Regions from separate parts of the Homo sapiens genome. Here regions 1 and 2 are each linked to region 3. Evidence: fine-mapped expression QTL. A gene starts in region 3. Each other region holds a variant in brackets. All regions are shown on one strand. Distances are between the middles of the regions.

Evidence for each region. PIP is the estimated chance that this variant, and not a neighbour inherited with it, causes the effect.
Region 1: its variant is fine-mapped to the expression of GAS7 in whole blood (INTERVAL, PIP 0.99). The same link has a PIP of 0.9 or more in blood mononuclear cells.
Region 2: its variant is fine-mapped to the expression of GAS7 in whole blood (INTERVAL, PIP 0.93).

What each region holds. Positions count from the first base shown.
Region 1 is chr17:10,113,196-10,117,413 of GRCh38, reverse strand. The region is part of intron 1 of GAS7 (growth arrest specific 7); the gene reads left to right. Among named protein-coding and RNA genes, the nearest start is that of GAS7, 83 kb to the left of the region's middle. RefSeq lists an enhancer at 1-146 and a silencer at 2,101-2,160. The variant T/C (reference allele first, on the strand shown) is at 1,989.
Region 2 is chr17:10,018,149-10,022,366 of GRCh38, reverse strand. GAS7 (growth arrest specific 7) reads left to right here. Exons shown (of 14, transcript NM_201433.2): 2 at 2,470-2,590. Among named protein-coding and RNA genes, the nearest start is that of RCVRN, 110 kb to the right of the region's middle. The variant T/C (reference allele first, on the strand shown) is at 2,006.
Region 3 is chr17:10,196,096-10,200,313 of GRCh38, reverse strand. GAS7 (growth arrest specific 7) reads left to right here and starts at 1,708. Exons shown (of 14, transcript NM_201433.2): 1 at 1,708-2,106. The coding sequence starts at 1,924.

The DNA.
Region 1 (4,218 bases), 83 kb after region 3:
CTTCTAATCTCTGGAGCCTGTGAATATGTTACCTTCTGTGGCAGATGGGATTTTGCAGTTGTGATTAAGTTGAGAACCGGAGATGGGGAGATAATCCTGGATTATCCACGTGGGCCCAGTGTAAGCCAAGGGTCCTTATGAGAGGGAGGCAGGAGGGCCAGAATCAGTGTTAGGAGATGTGATGTTGGAAGCAAGAGGCTGAGTGACGAGAGGAAGGGGCCGAAAGCCAGGGAAAGTGGGTGGGCTCCAGAAGCTGAGAAAGGCAAAGAAATGGATTCTCTCCTAGAGCCTCCAGGAGGAACCAGCCAGCCCTGCAGACATCTTGACTTTAGCCCTGTGAAACCTGTTTCAGACTTTTGACCTCCAGAACTGTAAGATAATAAATTTTCATTGTTTGAAGCCCGTTAGTGTATGGGAATTTGTTACAGCAGCCTCAGGATATGAATAGACCTCTTTATCTCCTTTCAGTCTCTCACTCACTCTGGCAGGTCCACCCCTTTGCTCTGTTTTTTCTTTTCCCCCCCTCATCATTTATCACCTTCCAGCAAAACTGGATCATTGACCTGTCTGTCTGGCTTGTTGTGGGTTGTGTATCTCCCCTGCTAGAATGTAAGCTCCCTGAGGCATGGATCTTTGTCTTGTTAACTGATGTATCCCAGTGTCGAAACCTGCGTCTGGTGTATAAGAGGTGTTCAAGAAACCTGTGTCGAATAAATAAATGAATGAATATGAATGAATGATTCCTTGGTCTGGAATACCTTCTCTTCCCATTGTCTCTGCCAGCTGCCCTCTAAGTCCACTTCAGACCCACTCCCTACCCGCAAGAGCTCTCCTGTAAGTGACTTCCCTGGCAGGATGCGGCTGGTGCTATCTGCTGGTCACCTTTCCTGAGCACCCAGTGGCTGTGAGCAGCCCGGCCAGTTGCAGAGACCCGCTCAGCCCAGGGCACTCTTCTTCAGCTTGCATTCCCCGGGGTAAGCCCTGCAGCAGCCAGGTACTCTGGAGAGTATTCATTTTGTTCCATGCATTTCTTACAGATGAGCACTGTCAGAGTCTAAGGGACCCAGCTGATCTCTAAACCCAACATTTTTTTTTTTTTGAGGCAAGAGTCTCACTCTGTCCCCTAGGCTGGAGTGCAGTGGTACAATCTCAGCTCACTGCAACCTCCGCCTCCTGGGTTCAAGCAATTCTTCTCCTGCCTCAGCCTCCTGAGTAGCTGGGACCACAGGCACACGCCACCACACTCGGCTAATTTTTGTACTTTTAGTAGAGATGGGGTTTGGCCATGTTGGCCAGGCTGGTCTTGAACTCCTGACTTCAAATGATTCACTTCCCTTGTCTTCCCAAAGTGCTGGGATTACAGTCGTGAGCCACCATGGCCGGCCAACCCAACCTCATTTTGATGATGATCTGGAGAGGTGAGGGGTCCCACCAAGGTGCTGAGCAAATTTCTAGGGCTTCTAAGTCTCAGAAGTCCTGGTTGGATGATCTGTTTGGGAGAGCTCCTTCTCTCCACTGCCACCCCCAGGGACAGCGTGCCTCACTCGTAGAAGGTACTAAGAATTTGCCTGGATATTGGAGCTTTGGAATCTGTCATGGCTGGGGAGGTTGGTGAGTGGGGCACGGTTTTAAGGGAAGGTATAAGGTTCTCCCCAGGGACTAGGGGCGGGGGAGACCAAAGGATTTGTCTTGTTGTTAACAACAGTAGTATGGAGGATGGGGAGTTTGGAAAAAGGAAAGGAAGAAAAGACAAGAAATGGTAATAAGTATGGGCAAGAGTTGTGTGCCCACAATGGACACCTCATGCTAGGGGACCCCCAAGTGTATGGACACTGCCAAGAAGGGGCAAGGAGGGATGAGAGAGGCCTTCTCTGTGCTGAGGTGTGCTTCCCCGGGGCACAGCTGCAGCCTGTAAAGGGTGAACAGTTAGGAACACTTCTTTCTGCTGTCTTCTCTGGGGAGGACACGTGTTGCAACACTTCCTGAGT[T/C]GGGGAGGAGGTGACACTTTGCCCCCCACCCTCCTTCAGACTGCTGATGAAGTGTGCTTAGTTATGAACCTACAGCTGTGTTTTTGCAGCGTTCCCCCCGCCTGTGCACCCGCCAGTCCCACGGGGGGCTCCCCTCCCTCCTTCCGTCCCTGGTCCTTCCCTCTGCTGGCTGGTGACTCACTCAGCTCTTGTGCAACAGCCCAGGCTCTCGCTCAGAGAAGAGCTGTTTTCCTCCATCCCATAAGCCCCCGTCCTAATTTATGTCTTTTCATTTGGGTTAATGCTTTCCACATTTAGGTCTGGAGATTAGCGTGTGGCTCATTGATGCAACCACCAAAACCCCAGTGCCAGCTTGGGTCTGGCACAGAGAGGCAGCCAGCCAGCCAGCCAGACAGACAGACAGACAGAGGACAGCTTGGAGCATGACCCCCAGCCTGTTGGTCTGCAGCTGGCCCAGCCCTGCCAGCCACAGAGGCAGAGCGAGGAGGCAGCCCTGACTCCTGGCTTGCCAGAGAATCATTCTCATGCCAGTTTCCTGTGAAGGACACGCATCTTGGAATGGCGTGAAGAGGAGATTGCCCCAAGCCTGTGACTTCTCATTGAGGAAACTGTGTGTCGGGAAGTGAGAGGCACAAGTTCTAGGGTGTGGAAAAATGCGATCTCTGTGGCTTTCAAAGCTGTCACACAACACAGTGTGTGTGTGTGTGTGTGTGTGTGTGTGTGTGTGTGGTTTTTCTCTTCTCTTTAGAACAATAATATTACCTTTGTTGCTATGGTGTTGTTATGGGGGTGGCTAATTGGACACAGCCCTGATGCTGGCTGGTGTGTGGTGTCCATAGTGATTATCAGACGGCAGCCATGGGACCTGCTTTGATTTTCTTCCCTGGAGTGAGAAGCAGGCAGAGGATCACTCGGTGGCTGTGTATACCCTGCCTTTGGTGGTGGCACCCCAGTCAGAAACGGGACCCTGAAGCTGGGATTTAGGTAAGGGGAGGACCTTTCCAAGGCTTGTTTACAGCTCAGATTTGCAGAGGACCAGGTATTTGGGAACTCCTCTTCTGAAGAACCAGATTGCAGGGCAGGGCACAACGAGGGGCCTGTTGCATCTTGGGAGCACAGGGCTGTGTGCTCTGGTAACCTGGGCCCACTCACCTGGCAGGCACTGGCTTCCTTCCCAGTGAGACTGTAGCATTGACGGAAAAGTGCATGGTGGCTCATGCCTGTAATCTCAGCACTTTAAGAGGCTGAGGCAGGAGGATTTCTTGAGCCCAGGAGTTTGAGATCAGCCTGCGCAACATAGGGAGACCCCCATCTCTACAAAAAATAATGAAAGAAAAAAAAAGATTAGCCAGGCGTGGTGGTGCATGCCTGTAGCCCCAGCTACTCGGGAGGCTGAGGCAGGAAGATCACTTGAGCCCGGGAGGTTGAGGCTGCAGTGAGCTGTGATCACACCACTGCACTCCAGCCTGGGCAAGATAGCAAGACCCTATCTTGAGAAACAAAAGAGACAGAAGTATGTTTGGTCAGTATGTATACCCAAAAGTATATCTGTTAATTTTATACTTATCAAATAGGTAATATATGCTCAGGTCTGATATCTGAAAGGTACAAAAAACGTAGAGTGAAAAGTTGGTCTCCTTCCCATCCCTGTCCTCAACCTATCAGTTCCCTTCCCGAGTGGCAAACAAGTGATCAGTTTCTTGTGGGTACTTCCAGAAGTAGTCCAGGAATTTCCAAATATGTTTCATTTTATTTTCCTTAACCCAGGAAACCGTGTGTCGGGAAGTGAGAGGCACAAGTTGTAGGGGGCGGAAAAATGCGATCTCTGTGGTTTTCTGAACACAGGTATCCCCTCTATACTTCTGCACCTTGCTGGTGCTACTGATGCTTTTTGTTAAATCATATAACATATCTTGGAGTTTAGTCAATAGGAAGAGCTTCCTCCTCCTGTTTAATGCCTGCCCCACTCATTTCACCAATGGGCATAAAGGTTGCTTCTAATCTTTCTCTGTTACCTTTACCTGTTGCTGCTGTGGATAGCCTCGTATATCCATCATTCTGCACGTGGGTGAGGGTCTCTGAAGGGCAAGTTTCTGAGGTTGAAAGGTTGGAACAAAGAATATATGTGTTTGTAGTTTTGACAGAAAGGGCCAGATTGCCTCTAACAAGACTGTTCTAGCTTACACTTCTGCTAGCAGCGAGTAGGAGTGCCTGCTTTCCCATAGCCTTG
Region 2 (4,218 bases), 180 kb after region 3:
AAACTAGAATATTTCACTCAAGGGGAGGACACCTGGCATCTTGCCCCTCTGGTTCTAGAATCTCTTTCATCAAACACTCATGCCTGTAGTTGTATTTTTTTGTTCTTTGTTTTGAGACAGGGTCTCACTCTGTCACCCAGGCTGGAGTGCAGTGGTGCGATCACAGCTCACTGCAACAACCTCCTAGGCTCAGGCAATCCTTCCACCTCAGCCTCCTAAGTAGCTGGGACCACAGGCGTATGCCACCACACCCGGCTAATTTTAAAAATTATTTGCAGACGGAGTCTTCCTATGTTGCCCAGGCTGGTCTCAAACTCCTGGGCTCAAGCCATTCTTCCACCTCGGCCTCCCAAAGTGCTAGGATTACAAGCGTGAGACATTGCACCTGGCCCTAACCCTCAGTTTTAATCCCCTGACCCCCCACCCATGCCGACTTTATTTCTAATCCTATTGGACAGAATGTTCATCTCCTGTGCATGGGATACTTCTCTTTCTCTCAACATGCACGCGCGCATGCACACGCACACACACGCACACATGCACGTTGTTATAATCCTATTTGTCTTGCATATATTTTGGCTATCTTCCAATCCTGGAGAGTCCAAAGCAGTGAGAGGGCCCAGGTAAACCTGCCCAGATGTGGGCTTGTGCTTACTGGACATGCTGGTGAGACAGCAACCTGCGACCCTGGTGGGATGCCACACCGTGTTGATCCTGGCTGCTGTCCACCTCACTGTCTCCTGCTGTCTTAGAAGACAGTCTTCCATACGGAATCAAACGGGCACTGCAGGTTAGCAGGTGTAGGAGATGGAGCGTCCAGGGCATAGGGGAAAGCTTTTAATTAAGTTGTGAAAATGCATTGTGAAACTTACACCGCAGCTACGCAGAGGGCAGAAGGGAGGCTGTGTTTACTCAAAGTCCCCGAGCAGCTCAGATTTACTCGTTCCCTCCAATGACATGCAGGGCACTACGGGAAGCCACGGCACGTGGTTTTGCAACCTTCACAAAGCGTGAGAGTAGCCTGGGAGCTGTGTGTCTCTGCTGCTCTCTTTCATTCTGTTATCTTGTTTTCCTAAGCGGGGGTCACCAGGGACCACCACTATGGGCACAGCTGGGGGATACTGAGGACATTTGGGAGCCGATTACCTTTACTGTTTGTGAACAGTCCCCTGGCTTTGCTGAGAAATTCATGGCTACTCTCTTCGTATGGCTACAATTCTGATTTTAATCAATTTACTTCAAAAGGCACAGCAATCTTACGGGCTAATTTGGACTCTCTGTCCTAATTTTAAAATGTTCTTTAGCTAACAACTTTTATTTCTGTGTTTATGGGAGAAAATTTAGGGGGAACAGATATGTAGAAAGGAGAGTATAATAATTGCCTGTAATCCCAGCACCCAGGGATCGTGGCTGTTTTTTGTTTGTTTGTTTTTATATTTTTGTTTGTTTGTTTTGAGATGGACTCTCACTCTGTCACCCAGGCTGGAGTGCAGTGGTGCGATCTCTGCTCACTGCAACCTCCGCCTCCTAGGTTCAAGCAATTCTCTTGCCTCAGCCTCCCGAGTAGCTAGGACTACAGGCGCACACCACCACGCCTAGCTAATTTTTTGTATTTTTAGTAGAGGTGGGGTTTCACCGTGTTGCCCAGGCTGGTCGCGAACTCCTGAGCTTAGGCAATCCGCCCGCCTCGGCCTCCCAAAGTGCTGGGATTACAGACGTGAGCCACTGCGCCCGGCCATGGTTGTTTTTTTTTTAGCATCTGTCTACTAGATATCTAGTTTCTTTGTATGTCATATACATTTTTCTCTGATTTGTTTTTTAACGAAAAGTAATTCTATACATGGTTAAAAGAATTAATTGCACATAAATGCATACAATGGGAAGTCAGCGTCTGCTCTGTCTCCGAGTCCTCGTTCTTTTTGCCAGAGTGATCTGGACCCTTGGCGAGAGAAGCTCCATCCAGCTCTTCATGGATTCTCAGCATTATTATAGAATGTTTTGCATC[T/C]GGCTGTGGGATGACTTGCATTAATTACTTCTGCTAGGTTTGCACAGCAAGCCTGGGGCCTTGTCTGCTGCTGTGCTTCGTGGTCTGGGAATTTCAGGCTTCAGATTTCACAATGGGAGGTGGTGGAGTGACAGGGCCCCCTTGCAAGCTCAGCACCCCGTGAGTGATTTTCTAGGGGGCCGTGGAGAAAGTCTAGCTCCATTAGCTGAATGGCATTTTCCTCTCTGCTCCCAGAGGAGCTGTCCTCTGTGCAGGGGCTCTGAATGCTCAGGTGCTTCTCACTGCTCATGCTCACGCAACCCCGGAGGTCACGTGTGTGCTGCCTCTGACCTCAGGGGTTTATGGGCCGCAGACTTCCCAATGTCACGCTACTGTAGGGTGAATTCATCAGCCTTTGCCTTCCTGGTTTAAAAACTCTTGCAAAAATGCCAAATGGGTGTGACCTTTTCTTTCTTCTCCAACAGAAGCCTGGAATGGTCCCCCCTCCGCCGGGAGAAGAAAGCCAGACGGTCATCCTTCCACCTGGCTGGCAGAGCTACCTGTCGCCTCAGGGCCGGCGGTACTATGTCAACACGACCACCAATGGTGAGTCCCGCTCGGGGGAGAATCCTGCACCAACCCCCTGGCATTCTGGCTCTCTAGAGGGGCACGTTTTTTCTCCCTTCTTCGCCTCTCTGTTTGGGGGTTTTTTCTTCTTAAGTCTATGCTCAGGGGCTACAGTAAAGTCTTACTCCTCCCACTGTGCTGGGTGGTAGGGGTGCAAGTCTGGGTCTGTAGTTCTGGGAGTATCTTGGAAGGAAGGCTGCCCTTTATGGTTTGAGTCTTCCTTGGACCCTGACGTCCACCCTGGGTATCTGTGTTAAACCCAACCTGTTCGTCTGGGGCTGGGTTTTCTGAAGGGTGTCTCAAAAGGTTCTATGGTCAACAGCTGGCTTGAATAAAATGAACGAGGCAAAGTCACTGCATGATGTCTTGGAATTTTGAAGGTTTTAATGATCTTGAAGCTTCAATACAGGGGTTGCAAATGCGAGGTTTCCCTAATTTCACTACAACGTCATCTTTTTCCTTAAGTATCTCACTGGCTGGCATTTCTCCAGATGTTTTTTGGGAAATGCCGGGGGTGCTTATGGGTTATTTATCCCATCAAATAGTACAGGTTCCATGTGCATCTGAGTTGAATAGGACCACACCTCAATGACCCCAATAATTAGGGACCTCCCAGGCCTTCAAATGACCCCAGGATCCCCAGAAGTTTGCTGTGGATGGTTTATAAAAGGGGATGCACCACGTGGCAGGTTCTGTAACAAGGTGAGCAAAGGGCACTGTTGCAGGCTGTGGTCTTGGGCAGGGCAGGACAGGGTAAACCAGCTGAACAGAGCTGTGTCTTGACCTCCGTGACTCCCCAGAGAAATTGCCATGAGAGAACTGAGAGGATTTAAACCAAGGAAAGTTAGATTTAGTGGGAATCACAGACATGCGTTCCAAGGCAAAAGATGAAAATCGTACCCAAGTCCACTGCTGGCTCAGCCTTGGCCTCTCACTCCTCTGTGCCTGCCTGACTACATGACCACCCCTTCCCACCTGGGGGTATCGTTACTACAGCTGATGTTTATAAGCCTGCACCAGGAGGGGGTCCTAGTGACAGGGGAGCCAGCTACTGTTTAGCAGAGACACAAAGAAGGCAGCTGGTTTATTCGTATCCCCTGGCAACCTGACCTTCCACAGGCTCAAGAGGGGTGTTCTAGCGCAAGAGGTAATGAAGTTTCTAGGAAAAGGGAAGTAGGACTATTTCTGACCGTTCTAATCTTACACTTCCTCAAAACAAACACATGAACAGCTTTGCACTGTTACCGGAGACTTGAAATTTCAGAGGAGAGTGTGTCTATGTATGCAACACCCATCTGCCAAACACAGAATTTGGACCGTAGGATCATGAGATCATCAATTATTTGGGACAACATTGGATCCAAATTATTGGAAGGTCAGGTTGCTAGGGGATATGAATAATTTGGATCCGTTATTGTCCCAAATAAGCTACTCTATTGCAAAGGGGCATGGGGGGAAATGGCTTTCTGAATTTCAGCATCTTTATCTTTTTTTAAGTTAGAGACTAGTTTGTTTTCACGGTAAAAAATTCAGTAAGTACAAAATGATTTCAAATAAAAAATAATCCCCGGTCTCACCTTTTAAACATATGTATACTTATTCTTTTA
Region 3 (4,218 bases):
ATGAGTATTTTTAAAAAGTTGCATAATGACTGTAATGTGCAGCCAGGATTGAGAACCATTGAACTAGGTGAAAGGCTCTGTGCCAGGGTCTGATTCAAAGCATAGACAGGTGCGCAAGATCTTCAGGCTCTTGGAGCCCGGCCTGACTGGTTTTGTAATGGATATCTAGGCAGTCATAGTAAGAGGTGAAGCTAGAGGAGGCGTTGTGGAGGGCCTGAAATGTACAGGCAGAGAAGTTTGTACCAAATTTAAAAGGCAATAGGGAGCCACAGAAGGTGACTGGGGGAGGGGGGAAGGAGTAGACAGAGGTATACAGGCGTATTAAAGGGTCCAGCTTTTTTTTTTTTTGAGACGGAGTTTCACCCTTGTTACCCAGGCTGGAATGCAGTGGTATGATCTCCGCCCACTGCAACTTCCACCTCCCGGGTTCAAGCCATTCTCCTGCCTCAGCCTCCTGAGTAGCTGGGATTACAGGCACCCGCCACCACGCCCGGCTAATTTTTGTATTTTTAGTGGAGATGGGGTTTCACCTTGTTGGCCAGGCTGGTCTTGAACTCCTGACCTCAAGTGAGCCATTCGCCTCAGCCTCCCAAAGTGCTGGGATTACAGGCGTGAGCCACCGCGCCTGGCCGAGTCCAGCTATTTACAGGCTAAAAAATGTACTTTATTTTATTTCTTTAAAATTTTTTATGGAGTAGACTAGCAAAGAAACCAAGCTTTCTTTTACTTCTGTACGGTCAGTTCAAGGTCAACATTCTGCAGCACTCAGGTTCACTGGTCCCTGGAGAGCAGGGACTGGCCCAAATGATGTTTGTAGTACCTGGCACATCGCATGGAACATGGCAGCCTCCTGGTAATGTTTGTTGACTGACTACATGAGTGTAGACTCTTTAGCCAACCCATCTCGATTTCGGGAGGGCTGGTACCCTGGGCCGGCCTTCCCTCTGCAAGTAAAAGCATTGGTGCTGTTCCTCTCACCGTTCGCCTTTCCTCCATTTATCCCCATCGACTGTTTCCAATTCTATCAACTCCGACCCCGTCTTCTCTCCATTCCGTCCCTCCAGCGTGCCACGCTGCCACCAGGCTGCTGGGCTCAGGCGCCAGGCTTCAAACCTGTCTTTCACCCATTGTTCAGTTTCCGGTGAGACAAGTTCAACCCCAGGTTCAACCACTACAATGACAACCACAAACGATCCCTCGCAGACACCTCGAAGAAGCCGCCCGCACGCCACGGGCCGCCAGGCCTACAAAGCAGGCACAGAACAGAGGGGCGTTTCCATTCCCGCGGTCCCCGGCGGTGGGGGCGCGAGTGGGAGCCCCTCTCCCCAGTGACAGGCCCCTCTGCGAGGGAGCGCGCAGCCCTCCGCGGGCGTGGCCGCCCTGGCCCCGCCCCGGCCCGCCCCCTCGCCAGTGAGCTAACCCCCGCCCGGCCACCCGGCCGCCAGCTCCTCTCCACGGCCGCCCGCCGCGGAGTCCTGCCGCGGGGGATGCTCCGGGTCCCACCTCCCGGGGGAGCTGCGCATTTCCGCGCGCCAGGGCGGCCCCGGCCCCGGTCCCGGCCCCGGCCCCGGCCAGCCCTCGCGGCGGCAGCCCGCGTTCCGCGTTCCCGGGAAGTTGTCTCCGGAGCCCGCGGCGCCTGGGTCTCCTCCCCCTGAGCCCCGCCCCCCAGCCCAGAGCTAGGATCCGCGAGCTGCCCGGCCCGGGGGCGTCGCCGCTCGCTCTGCGAAGCCAACGAGTCTCTGCTTCCCGGCGCGGAGCGCGCGTCCCCCGCCTGCCTGAGGACCCCCGCGCACCCCAGAGACGGCGCGCGCCCAGAGCGCGGGAGCCCGGAGCGCCGGGCGCCTGGGACCCCGCGGAGCCGCTGCCCAGCCCGTGGGGCTCGGCGGGAATGCAGGCTGCGCTGTGAACCCGGGCGCCAAGGCCATGTCCGGCGCTCGCTGCCGGACCCTGTACCCCTTCTCCGGGGAGCGGCACGGCCAGGGGCTGCGCTTCGCCGCGGGCGAGCTGATCACGCTGCTGCAGGTCCCGGACGGCGGCTGGTGGGAAGGCGAGAAGGAGGACGGGCTCCGTGGCTGGTTCCCGGCGAGCTACGTGCAGTTGCTGGAGGTAAGGGGCGAGGGCCGGGGCTGTAGGAGCCGGGGCTGCGGTCCTCGGTGCGCTCGCGTACCTGTTGCCCGTTCCGGGGATGCCGCAGCGTCCCGGTCGGAGGGGCGCCCCGGGGGGCAGCCCTTGCCGGCGCTACCTGTAGCTCCACGCTCCTGGGGGGCAGCGACGGCAGCGGGCGCCCCTCGGGGCGTGGGCAACGCGGACTCGCGGGGAGCTTCCACCTTGCGCCGGGCCTCCGGAGCACACCGTGGCTGCTCTGAGGAAGCGAGAACTTGTTGCCTGTGTGAGTTAAGGAGCAGGCGGGAGCGTTCCCGGCAGTGGCAGGGGCCGGTGAAGGGTCTGGCGGTCTTGGGAAGAGGCACGGAGGATCAGGGGTGCGAGAAAGTGGCACCGACTCGGTCCCGCAGCCCCGCGTCTCCACCCCGGAGTCTAGAGCCTGATGACCCGTGGACGGTCGTGCTGCCTTGGGTCAGGCTGCCTGGCCGCCTCGGGACCACCCACTTGCTGGTCAGCCGAGCCTGCTGGCCACCAGCCCGAGCCCCCTCAGCAGGCTTGATCCTGGGGTGCCGTAGCACCCCCCGCCACTGCCTGCTCCCCTGGTCCAGCTCCCCGAGGCTAAGGCTCAGAACCCGAAAGTGGCTTGTTCCTGGGGTTCTGGCCTGGCCCCAGGGCTGCACAGGACCTGCTGAGGCAAGGCGGCTGGCTGTTTATTGTCTATGTGACAGGCTGTCCTCTAATCACTGAGCTCGCAGTCACAGCCTGAGTGAGACCCGAAGTTTCTAAAGTCCTTTGTGTGTGGGGGGGTGACCTTCCAGGACATCCCCTTTACTAGAAGCCCGCCTGCCCCCAGGATTCTTGTAAAGACTAAATTAACAGTTACCTTCAATGGTGTCAGTATTCCTAAACATTCTGGTAAAACACTGCCGGAAGAAATCATGGAGGCTGAATTTATTTATTATTTAACTCTTGACCTACTTCACAGAGAAAGTAGCAAATTTTGACTGAGAATGCTCAGTGCAATTCATCGGGGGCGGGGGGAAGAAAGAAAGAAGTGAAATGGTTACAGGGTGAGTCCGCCTGAGGATGTATCCTGTGGCAACATTGTCAGCAAGAGCCTGGCCTTATAAAAGTACATTAGATTGCTTTCAGGTCCAGAGAACAACAAAATCTCTCCTAAAGGCATCAGTAGCATTTGAGCAAAGTTTAGGGGCTGCTGGAATGAGCTTTCATGGGCTGTCAGCAGAGTATGTTGCAGGAACCCTCTTGGTTCTGTATCTGGAGAATCCGGAGATACCCTACTTGTAGGAGAGGCTCAGGTGTGCCCTGCCCTGGCTTTTCCAGTTCCTTTCCCGAGATTCGGATGTAAAAGAAAGCGAACGTATTGCTTCTTACATGAGAAGCAAGGGGCCTCCTTGTTTCTAGCTTGAAGCCCTGGGATAGATACGTATTTTGGGAGTTCTTCGGGTGGTCACCCTTTTCCAGGAAATTCTGATGTGGAAATTTGGCTGATGGATGTCTGTCCGGTGAGGAGCATCCCTGGCTGGACTGAGCCAGCTGTGTTTTGTGTAGGGGTGAGGCTGGGTAGGTGTTAGTTAGCAAGAGTGGAGTGCTGCTTTTTCTTCCGGGAAAGGGACGATGGACCAGGGCCAGGGGACAAGCGGAATTAACAACTGGGACAGTTTTGGGTGTGTCTGTCCCATCCTCTGGCATATACAAAGGTAAGAGATCTCTGGTGTCTCAGGGCCTCTCAGACCATTCCTGACTAGTAACTTGCAACAGAAGCATCCATCTGCGTGAGCAATACTTCTGAGCACCTGCTTGGCACAGTGTGTGCACGTTATCACCAGTTCCCTGACAGCTCTGTGAAGGGTGAGGTACTTCCCCCATTTTATAGACAAGCAAGCTGAATATGAGAGAGGCGAAGTCAGCTCCCCAACTAGTAATGCTTGCGTGTTTTGTTAGCAGCTCAGATGACTGAGTATCACCCCCTGCGCCTGTGCCTTTTTTAAACATGATAGCCCGGGCTCAACTATGCCAAACAGCGTGTGAGCGAAGGGTCTGGATCCATGGGGAAAAGGGGCATGCGCAGCCCCTGAGGTCAGCATGTTGGTG